Linked DNA regions of Homo sapiens: region 2 is linked to region 1. Evidence: fine-mapped expression QTL. A gene starts in region 1. The other region holds a variant in brackets. All regions are shown on one strand. Distances are between the middles of the regions. Region 1 holds the start of TM9SF4 (transmembrane 9 superfamily member 4). Region 2 has its middle 25 kb from the start of PLAGL2.

Region 1 (5,377 bases):
AGTTTCTGGCCCTATAAGTCTTTAATCCATTTTGAATTGATTTTGTATATAGTGTGAGATAAAGGTCCAATTTCATTCTTTTGCATGTGGATATTCATTTTTAGGGATGACGAAAATGTTCTGGAGACGGATGACGGTAATGATTGACAACTTTGTGAATGTAGTTGATTTCACTGATTTGTGCACTTAAAAATGATTAAAATAGTCAATATTTAGTTATGCATATTTTACAACAATGAAAAATATTTAGGCCGGGTCCAGTGGCTCACACCTGTAATCCCAGCCCTTTGGGAGGCCAAGGCAGGCAGATCACTCGAGGTCAGGAGTTCTAGACCAACCTGGCCAACATGGCGAAACCCCATCTCTACTAAAAATACAAAAACTCAGCCGGGCTTGGTGGCATGCACCTGTAATCCCAGCTACTCAGGAGGCTGAGGCAAGATAATTGTTCGAATCCGGGAGTCAGAGGTTACAGTGAACTGAGATTGCGCCACTGCACTCCAGCCTCGGCAACAGAGTGAGACTCCATCTCAAAAAAAATTTTTTTCAGAAAAAAAAGAGAAACTTGCCCATGTTATGGAGCTAATGAGTGGTGGAAATGCGTTCTGAACCCAGGCAGTCTAGTTCTAGGATTCTGGCATATGTCACCAAAAGAGATTGGGATATGAAAGGCCTTTAGGGAAAAATACAAAGCATGAGAAAAAAAATGGAAATACTAAAAAATAATAGGCCATTTATGGAGCTTTGCTCCTTATCAGTTATCTTTCTTCAGGCAGCTAGAAATGGTGGGAAACACTCAGGATCGAAGCTCTAGGAAAACTGGTTCCAAGTCTGGAAACTATGAGACTGCAGCAAATTCCCCCTAGTCTCTCAAGCTTCCTCCTCCTTGGGGTTAATAGCCAATCTGCCAATCTTCAGGATGGTTGTGCAGGTCACAAGAGTTAATGGGTGTGTGTTTCAATGATCTATTACTGAAATGATCTATAATAAACCACCCCACTCTAAAGCTGGGCTTAGCTGGGCAGTTCTTTTGGTCCACATGGTGTTCATGAGGTTATTCATGTAGCTGCATTCAGCTAGTAGCTCAGTGGGGGTTGGAATGTCCAAGATGACTTCAGTTACATATTATAGTGCTTAGCTGTAGTTTCTAGAATGTCTTGAGGAGTTGGCTGGGCCTCCCTCTCTCTCCAGGTGCCTTTCCAGCAGAGTAGCTACACTTCTTTATAACCAAGAAGGTAGAATCAGACGTTTTCAATCCTCTTAAGGCCTAGGCTCAGTACTGGCAGAATCACTTGTAGCACATCCTATTGGTCAAAGCAACCAACATGACCAGCCAGATTCAACAGGAGGTAAAACAGAGTCTATCTCTTGAGGAGAGAAACCGTATGCTCATCATGCAAGGACGGACAGAACTACGTGGCAGCCATCTTTGCAGAAAATCCACCACAGTGGTGCCCATAGGTGGGGATCAGAGTTCAACTGTCCCTTGCCCCCTAGAATTAGATAAAAAGAGTCTAATGAACTGTTAGCATAATGCTAAGTGCTGCAGCACACAAAATGCTCGGCAAGTGCTGATGATTATTATTAATCATTATTATTCTTTTAATAGCTTTTTTAAAACAGTCTAAGATAGCACTGGTACTGTATTCAGTTTAAAGTGATATACATGGGTCAAATGAACTTTGAGTTCTTTCCCAACCTTAATACCATGATTCTTTGAGTCTCTTTTTCACAGATTTGGAAACTGAGGCTTAGGAAGATTGCGTGACTTGTCTGGAGTCACACACTAAGCTAGTGCATGACGTCCACATTCAGAGATATCTCCCTCCACTGAATATGCTGGTTTTCACTCGTTCATTTAAAAAATAATGTATTGGGCATCTACCACAAGCCCAAAGGAGTATACATAAACATATACTGACAATTATTTATTGAATACATCCTATGTAATACTGTGTCACTGAATCCTCATCACAAGCCTATGATGAACCAACCCCCTTCCCATTTCACAGATGGGAATGAGGAAGAGCAAGGTAAAAAACGAACAAACAAAAAAACAGGGTCCACCCTCATGGGGATTACAGTCTACTAAAGAGGATATAGGATAGTCAAACAAATACTTAAAATCAAACAAATACTTAAATATATAATTACAAATTATTCTTGGAGTCGTACTGCTCTTGGAGCCCCAGTGCCCACCCTTTCCCTCAAATCAAGGTCTCAGGTAACCCTGGCAATGGGTCTTCCTGCCAGTAGTAAAGATGGCGCTGAGAGCACGAGCGCACTTTCGCACACCCCCATTACCCACAATGCAGCGGGAATAAGGGAGGCTCAGTTTCTGCCAGGAGCTAATATGGCTTCCTTAGTTACACCGTTCTCTCTCTTCACCTAATCAGCGACCTTACTTTCCCAGACCAGACTGTCGAGCAGGAGCTAAGACTCCTTTTCCCCTCTGCTGACCGCCACTACAGGAGCGGTTGAAGCCAGACGACCACCTTGTGGAGTTAAACTCCGTAACCAGGGAGCACCACTTCCGCTGACGTCATTACGGCGACACGTGGATCCAAGATGGCGACGGCGATGGTGAGTGAAGGAGACTCCGGGAGCGGGAGCTGGAGCGGGGCCCTCCGGGGTATCCCAGGATCTTCCAGCACCCCATGCCTGGCCCTGAGCCACCTCCGGGACCCCTGACTCAGGCCTGAGGGCTACCTCTGACTGGGCTTGTCTTCCCCGAAATCCACCTCCCTGGCCCTGCCCCTGCACTCAGGCTTGTGAAGGCCCCGAGTTTTGGGGGAGGCGCCGTTTCGGAGGAAGACCTCGGCTGCTGCCTTCGCCGGTTCCCATTCTACTTTTGGTCTCCGCCCACTGTGAGCCCCATTTTCCATTTCTCACCTCCCTGTCCTGACCCCTCTGAAGACCCCCTCCCGTTATTCTCATCCTTGCTCCTCCCCGTCACGTCCAGACCCTGCTCTCCCCGCCTCCCCACCATCATAACCAGTCCGCAGATGTGACCTCTCCTCTGACCACCCTCCCAGCCCAAGCGCTGCCTCAGATCCTTTTCAGAGCCCTGTCCTCACTTACACTCATAGCTGTCCCCATCGCGCACCCCCTTGACTGCCGCTACCCCAGAGCTTGCCTTCACCTACCCCACCCCCATCTTTCATCCCTAGAGGCTTCCCTGCCCTTCCTGTCTTCTCTCAGTCAACTCCCTGCCCCTCTCTTAGGGACCTTTTACCCTGTTGGTTCTCAAACTTTACTGTGCATAAGAATCTCGAGGTGTGTAGGGGGAGGCATGCTAAAAATGCAGTTTCCTGAGCAGCCCCACTCCCAGAGATTCTAATTCCATAGGGCTAGGTGATGCCCAGGAATCTGCCCTTTTATAAGCACTCTAGTGATTATATAGTGGAGGTGGTCTGTGAACTACGTTTTGAAAAACACTAATAGCCCCACCTCACTGCTCTCCTTCCCATTCCCCAACATGGCCACACAGCTCGTTAGGGATGAAGGCTCTTTATTATGAAGCTATATGTTGGGATGAAGTCTGTGTGTGGATGAGGGTGGAGGTAAAATAGCCATGCTTGGAAGTTGGGTCAGAGCTTGCGGGCTCCTGGTGCAGAACCTTGGAAGTAAATCTTTGAAGGACTGGCCCTTTTTCTAAAAGTTTAGTTCAAATTCTGCTTGTCAAGAGACCAGAACTAAAATTGAAGTCACTTAGTCCAGAATGATTTCCTGGGTCTTCCTGCATACTGCCTCCTCAGCAGATAATTTCGTCCGGGGAGTGAATGACAAGGAAGACTCAGAGAAAAGGAAATGACATTTGACTTTAGCAAAGGAAGATTCTGGCTTAAATAATTTGGTGTTGGTTTTCTCCAAACAGGGATATATTATTGACTGGTAGCAATTTTCCCTCCTTCTCTTAGCTGACTGAGAACTTACCTTTGTTTAATGAGGGATTCCTTATTTAGAACTTCAGAGGTCAGGTAAAAAGATTTCATGGCCTTACCTGGTTTCTGTGGTTTCAGACTTCAGGCTGAACCACGAGTGGGGCAAATCCTCAAAGTAGTATGTTGAAACCTACATATATGTATATATATTCTGGTACCACATTCAGAACAGAGATAGTGTAAGAACTTAAAAGGAAATCACACCCTCTCTTGCTATAAGGAAAACATTGAGTAAAGTGGTATTTACGGCACTGCACTGGGAAATCCCTGCCTTGTTCAGAGATTTTTAAGAGGTTATAAGCTAGCAATACATATATGTGGTACACATCTATTTAGTCAACAAATATTTGAGTACCAATTCTGTTCCAGGAACTAGGGATGTAGTTGTGAATTACAGGGTCAAGGTCCCTACACTTGTGGAGCCTTTCTGGTTTGAGGAGACAGGCAGTGAACAAGTAAATACGTGAACAAAATAATGTCACCAGTAGATGCTGTGAGGACAGCAAAATGAAGTGATAGTGATTAGGGGTGACTGGGTGACACAACTACTTTGGATTGAGTGGTCAGAAAGAAGTCTTCTCAGAGGAGGTGACTTGAGTTAAAACATAATTAACAAGAAGGAACCAGCCATGCAAAGAATGTTCCAAGCAAAGGAAATGGCAAGTGTAAGGGGCCGATGTGGAAGGGAGCTTGGTGTTTTTGAGGAACACACAGAAGGCTGGAGGGGCCGAAGCATGATGAGGGTTGGGGTAGGAGAGAATGATACAAGATGAAACTGGAGGGAAGCAAGAGCAACTGTTTTGAGAAGCATGCCTGGAAATGGGAAGGACTGCGGTCTACATTTTGTTGTCTGTGGATTGCATTTTGAAATAGTGTTGTATTAGGCTGCTTCCCCTTCCCATCCCCTTCAGGACAGTACTTGAAGGGAGCCAGCTTGTTCTCAGTTGGCACAGAGGCTGTGGAAAGGAGTTTGGATTTTAGTCTAAGCACAGTGGAAGGGACAGTGATTTTTGCCCAGCACAGTGACTCACACCTGTAATCCCAGCACTCTGGGAGACCAAAGCTGGGAGATCGCTTGAGCTCAGGAGTTTGAGACCAGCTTGGACAACATGGCAAACCCCTCTACAAAAAAAATACAAAAAGAAAAAATTAGCTGGGCTTGGTGGTGTGCACCTGTAGTACCAGCTACTTGCGGGGCTGAGGTGGGAGGATCACTTGAACCTCAGTGAGCCCTGATCACTGCACTGCACTCCAGCTTTGGCAACAGAGCGAGACCCTGTCTTAAGAAACAACAACAGGCCGGGAGCAGTGGCTCATGCCTGTAATCTCAGAATTTTGGGAGGCTGAAGCAGGCAAATCACTTGAGGCCAGGAGTTCAACACCAGCCTGGCCAACATGGCGAAACCCTGTCTTCTAAAAATACAAAAATTAGC
Region 2 (5,377 bases), 73 kb after region 1:
GCCCAGCTAATTTTTTTTTGTATTTTTAGTAAAGACAGGGTTTCGCCAAGTTGGCCAGGCTGGTCTCAAACTCCTGACTTCAGGTGATCCTCCCACCTTGGCCTCCCAAAGTGCTGGGATTACAGGTGTGGCCACTGCGCCCGGTCTGCACCGCCTTTTTTTACCTGTAAGATCACAGGGCCTCTGCGAAGCACTGTATGAGTGATTTTTTGTTTTGTTTTGTTTTGAGACAGGGTCTTGCTCTGTTGCCCAGGTCAGAGTGCAGTGGCACAATCTCAGCTCACTTCAACCTCCACCTCCCAGGTTCAAGCAATCTTCCCACCTCAGCCTCCGAATAGCTGGGACTACAGGCGCCCACAACCACACTCAGCTAATTTTTTTTTTTTTTTTTTTTGAGATGGAGTCTCACTCTGTCGCCCAGGCTGGAGTGCAGAGGCGCGATCTCGGCTCACTGCAAGCTCCGCTTCCCAGGTTCACGCCATTCTCCTGCCTCAGCCTCCTGAGTAGCTGGGACTACAGACGCCCGCCACCATGCCCAGCTAATTTTTTTTTTTTTTTTTGTATTTTCAGTAGAGACGGGGTTTCACCATGTTAGCCAGGATGGTCTCGATCTCCTGACCTTGTAATCCGCCCGCCTCGGCCTCCCAAAGTGCTGGGATTACAGGCGTGAGCCACCACACCTGGCCCCACTCAGCTAATTTTTATATGTTTTTTGTAGAGACAGGGTTTCACAATGTTGCCCAGGCTGGTCTCGAACTCCTAGACTCAAGTGATGTGCCCACCTTGGCCTCCCAAAGTGCTGGGATTACAGGTGTGAGCCACCACACCCAGCCAAGTTCTTTGAAGTGAAAGAGACACTCACACAATTGATGCTCAATCTCTCCTCACTCACCAAAGGAGAGTCTAAAGGGCCTGCCTCCTAGGAATCTTAGTTTGGCAGTGACTTGGCTCAACTTAAGGAACTTTCTAGGTCCAGAACCCTTGCAACTGGACCTGTGCTAGCCTAGAAGTCAGCACCCTCTAACCCTGAGGGCCATCATGGGGTGAAAGTGCCAGCTGTGAGGTCTCACAGAAAAGCCAAAGTGTGACTGTGAGCGCCTAGAGGCAGTGGTCTTAGCTTGCCTCTAGGCACTGGACATTATGAGCAGACATCCATTCCGCGTCAATGCTTGGTCTACCACTACCCTGCTCCCCCTTGCCAATAACTAATTCAAGACTGGGCATGTGACCCAGTTCTAGTCAGTAAGGTATAGGACCAGGAAAATCTACAGTGGCTTCTGGGAAAGGCTTCCTCCATTTTAAGAGGAGCCATGGTAAGACATAGTCTCCCCTCTCTGGAATTGCCATATTCCAGTGTGGACACTTGGGGCTGCTGCCACCATCTTGGCACCAACCTGAGGATGGAACTAACAAGAAGGATGGCAGATCAGAGAAGGCCCGAGCCTGGACGCATCATTGAGGTGATGGATCAAATAGCCCCACTGCCTCAATTCCCCTCTGAATATTCATATAAGGAAAAAAGACTTAGTGGTTCAGTTAGATGCCACCAAAAGCAAAAGCATTGTCACTGAGCCAGCCACCTGGAGGGCTGGAGGTGCATGGAGGGGAGCACCTTAAAGGTACTTTTACCTCCTGCTAAGGAGTTTTGACTTTCTCCTTTGGATGAGAAAAGGGCCAATAGCTGTGAAAAGACATGCCTAAGGCCATGTAGGGGGAAGTGGCAAGAGCAGCCCTGCACAGGCCTATCAGCCTTCCAGCGGGTGCCTGATGCACTACAGCCCTGTGCCCCAGGATCCTGAGTCAGCTTTGATGGTGGGGCCTGTGGGTGGAGGCCTCAAAGTTCACCGACTCCAGTCAACGTTTAGTTCTCCTGCTGAGCAAGAGCAAGCAAGCACTGGGGACTTCCTTGAATTTTTGTGCTGAAATGGTATCCTTGGAGGAAAATATCAAAGTCCCCCGAGCTGTAATCAAGGCAGTTGCAGATTACAAGTAATTGCCATAGTTTCGGGACAGGTTTTTCTTGGATTTAAAAGAGCCTGTCCAAAGTTCCTTCCCGGGCCAACAGAACAGAACAGGGCAGGCACCTGAGACAGAGGGGAGCAGAACCCTGGGATCCAAGGCTTGTGTTTGCTCTCCACGCCAGAGCAGGAAGCCCCCTCTGTACCCTGGCCTCCTTCCTCCACGCTTGGAGCATGTGTAGGCCACGTGGCCAT[G/C]TCTCTGTAGTAGGAGTCGGGAATGGGCTCCGGGACATTTATTGCCTCAATTCCAAGACTGCCTGGAAAAGGGCGGTACTGCCTTGGGCAGTAGAGAGTTCCTATCGCTAGAGATACAAACCCCAGAAGGGCCTTCAGCAGGCATCTGATGCCTTCATACATGCTGTCGCCTCGCCCACCAGGAAGACCCTCCTGAACCTCAAAGATGTGACACATGCATTCATTCATTTCACAAAGAACTACTTGTGCCAGGTGCTGCTCTAGGTAAGGGGGATTTAGCAATGAATAAAACAAAGTGCCTCTGGGTGTGGCGGCTCACGCCTGTAATCCCAGCACTTTGGCCAAGGTTGGCAGATCACCTGAGGTCAGGAGTTCGAGACCAGCCTGGCCAACATGGGGAAACCCCATCTCTACTAAAAATACGAAAATTAGCCAGGTATGGTGGTGCATGCCTGTAATCCCAGCTACACAGGAGGCCGAGGCACAAGAATTGCTTGAACCCAGGAGGAGGGGGTTGCAGTGAGCTGAGATTATGCCACTGCACTCCAACCTGGGTGACAGATCCAGACTCCGTCTCAAAAAAAAAAAAAAAAAAATTCCCGAAGAGTGTAGAGAAAAAAAACAGATAAAATGAATATACAATGTGATATCAGGTGGTTGTTAAGTGCTATAACAGAAAGGGGACAGAGAGTGACAGGGTGAGTTTTAGAAAGGGTGGTCGGGGAAGGCTTCCCTGGAAGAGGTGTAACTAATGTTTGAACTGATAAACTTTAATGAAGGCAGGAGCCGGCCATGCAAACATCTGGAGAAGCAGCGTCTAGGCAGAGGGAAGAGGAAGCAAGGTCTTCAGCCAGGTTTGAAGACTAGCAAGAGGCTGGTGTAGACTGGGCATGGTGGCTCACACCTGAAATCCTAGCACTTTGGGAGGCCAAGGTGGGCAAATTGCCTGAGCCCAGGAGTTCAAGACCAACCTGGACAACATGGTGAAACCCCATCTCTACAAAAAATACAAAAATTGGTTGGGCATGGTGGCACACACCTGTAGTTCCAGCTACTCAGGAGGCTGAGGTGGGAGGATCACCTGAGCCCTGGGAGGTTGAGGCTGCAGTGAACCTTGATCGTGCCACTGCACTCCAGCTTGGGCAACAGAGTGAGACTCCATCTCAAAAAAAAAAATGGCTGCTGGAGCTCGAAAGTGGTCTGGCGGCGGAGAAGCATAGGAGATGAAGTTGGATTGGTGACTGGAAGTCAGATCAGGAGGGTCTTGCAGGCCAGGCAGAGCATGTTGGCTTTTCCTCTGTATATTGCAGCCATTGGGTTTGGAGCAGAAGGGCATGGTCTGACTCAGGCTTAGACAGCCACACTCTGCCTGCTGCACCCATATAAAGCCCTGGCACATGGTAGGTGGTTAATAAACTTTGGTGATTATTATCAATGTTCTTCAGCTGCACCATTGGACCCCGGAGCTCACTGAGGGCAGGGACCAGAATGGTCATCCATGCCTATTATAGCTGGTGCTAAGATGTGTGGATATATCAGTGACTCAGGGCATGAATGAGTGAGCAAGCTTGGAGTGGGTTCTGAGGAGGAGACTCATGCCCCCAGGGCAGGTGGGACATGCCGTTGGTGCCATGTAAAGGAAGCAAGCCACTGGCTATGCCACAGAGAGAACAGGTAGGCAGGTAAGTGCCCATTTTAGAAAAGAACCATTGCCTGGGCCCTAGGGGAATGCAGGATGCAGCTGGGCCCAAGTATGGCTGCAGGAGCCAACGCAGCCTGCAAACCAGCAGGCAAGAGTCAGGCAAACCACATGGGGCACCACCTCCTAGAATCACCAGGATGCTTACAGGCTCACCCTGATCCCCCCGGGAACATTAGAGGCAGTCATCTGGCACAAAACAGCACCCAGAGGGTGCAGCCTAGACAGGCACTGGTGCCCAGATTCTGGTTTTAGGCTGTACATGGGAGGTGGCAGACACTGTTGTGGGCTGGGGAAATCATGGAGGGCTTCCTAGAAGAGCTATAGCCTAGATGGACAGATAAGGTTCAAACTGAAGACACTAGGGGTCTATAACTGCAGACACTCCTCCAGACATGCCCTGTGAGATCACTCCACCTCTGAACCATGCCTGATACCCCTCCTCACTATCCACAGGATAATGCCTTGGCTTGGCATTCAAGAGTTCCTATCTTCAGAAAGTGGCCTCTTCAGGTATTGCTCTTGAAAAAAAAAATAATAAAAGATAAGTAAAAGAAAAAAGTGGCCTCAATCTACCCATTCAGCTTTGCCTCTCCCAAGCAGCCAAACCCACAGCACATGCTATACGTTAACCACGCCGCACATTTTCCCATCCAGTGCCTTCGCTCATGTTGTTCGCTCTGCCAGGAATTCCCTTCTCTGGCTCCACTTTCCAAACTACTGCCTATTCTTTAACACCCAGCTCGTGACCCAACTTCAGAGAAGTCTCCGCCCTCTGGTCCCACATCATCACATACCTGGTGAACTATAAGCCACGTTGAACACAGTTGGGTTTTGTCTCCTTGGATGACCGTTGGATACCAGTTACACCTCTTGCCCCGGTGTAATTATTAGTCGTGACCCTTTCATTCCCAGATATGTTCCAGCTGGATGGCAAATTAAACAGTCACCCTTCATCACCCACACCGTTCTCCACCCAACTCAAATCCTTTGGGCAGGAACTATGCCTTTGTCAGAGCCCAGCACAGTACTCTGTATGCTGGAATAAAGTCAGTCACTCATACCAGTAATCTTTGAGACACTGGACACTAAACTATGGGGAAGCAAAGCAGCAGAAACATGTGTCCCTGTTCTCCTGCCACATGTGAAAGGAGGTGGAAGAAGGTAAGAAAAGATCATTTCAGAGAGGCCACGTGCAGTGGCTCACGCCTGTAATACCAGCACTTTGGGAGGTGGAGGCAGGTGGATCACTTGAGGTCAGGAGTTTGAGACCAGCCTGGCCAACGTGGTGAAACCCTGTTTCTACTAAAAATACAAAAATTAGCTGGGTGTGGTGGCGGGCACCTGCAGTCCCAGCTACTAGGGAGGCTAAGGCAGGAGAATCGCTTGAACCCGGGAGGCGGAGGCTGCAGTGAGCCAAGATAGCACCACTGCACTCCAGCCTGGGTGACAGAGTGAGACCCTG

What was found. PIP is the estimated chance that this variant, and not a neighbour inherited with it, causes the effect.
Region 2: its variant is fine-mapped to the expression of TM9SF4 in whole blood (TOPMed, PIP above 0.99).

The regions. Positions count from the first base shown.
Region 1 is chr20:32,107,173-32,112,549 of GRCh38, forward strand. It overlaps TM9SF4 (transmembrane 9 superfamily member 4), which reads left to right and starts at 2,542. Exons shown (of 18, transcript NM_014742.4): 1 at 2,542-2,583. The coding sequence starts at 2,569. RefSeq lists enhancers at 1,859-3,058, 2,061-2,805, 2,463-2,642, 2,806-3,548.
Region 2 is chr20:32,180,359-32,185,735 of GRCh38, forward strand. No RefSeq gene overlaps it. Among named protein-coding and RNA genes, the nearest start is that of PLAGL2, 25 kb to the right of the region's middle. RefSeq lists a silencer at 98-278 and an enhancer at 1,699-2,199. The variant G/C (reference allele first, on the strand shown) is at 2,214.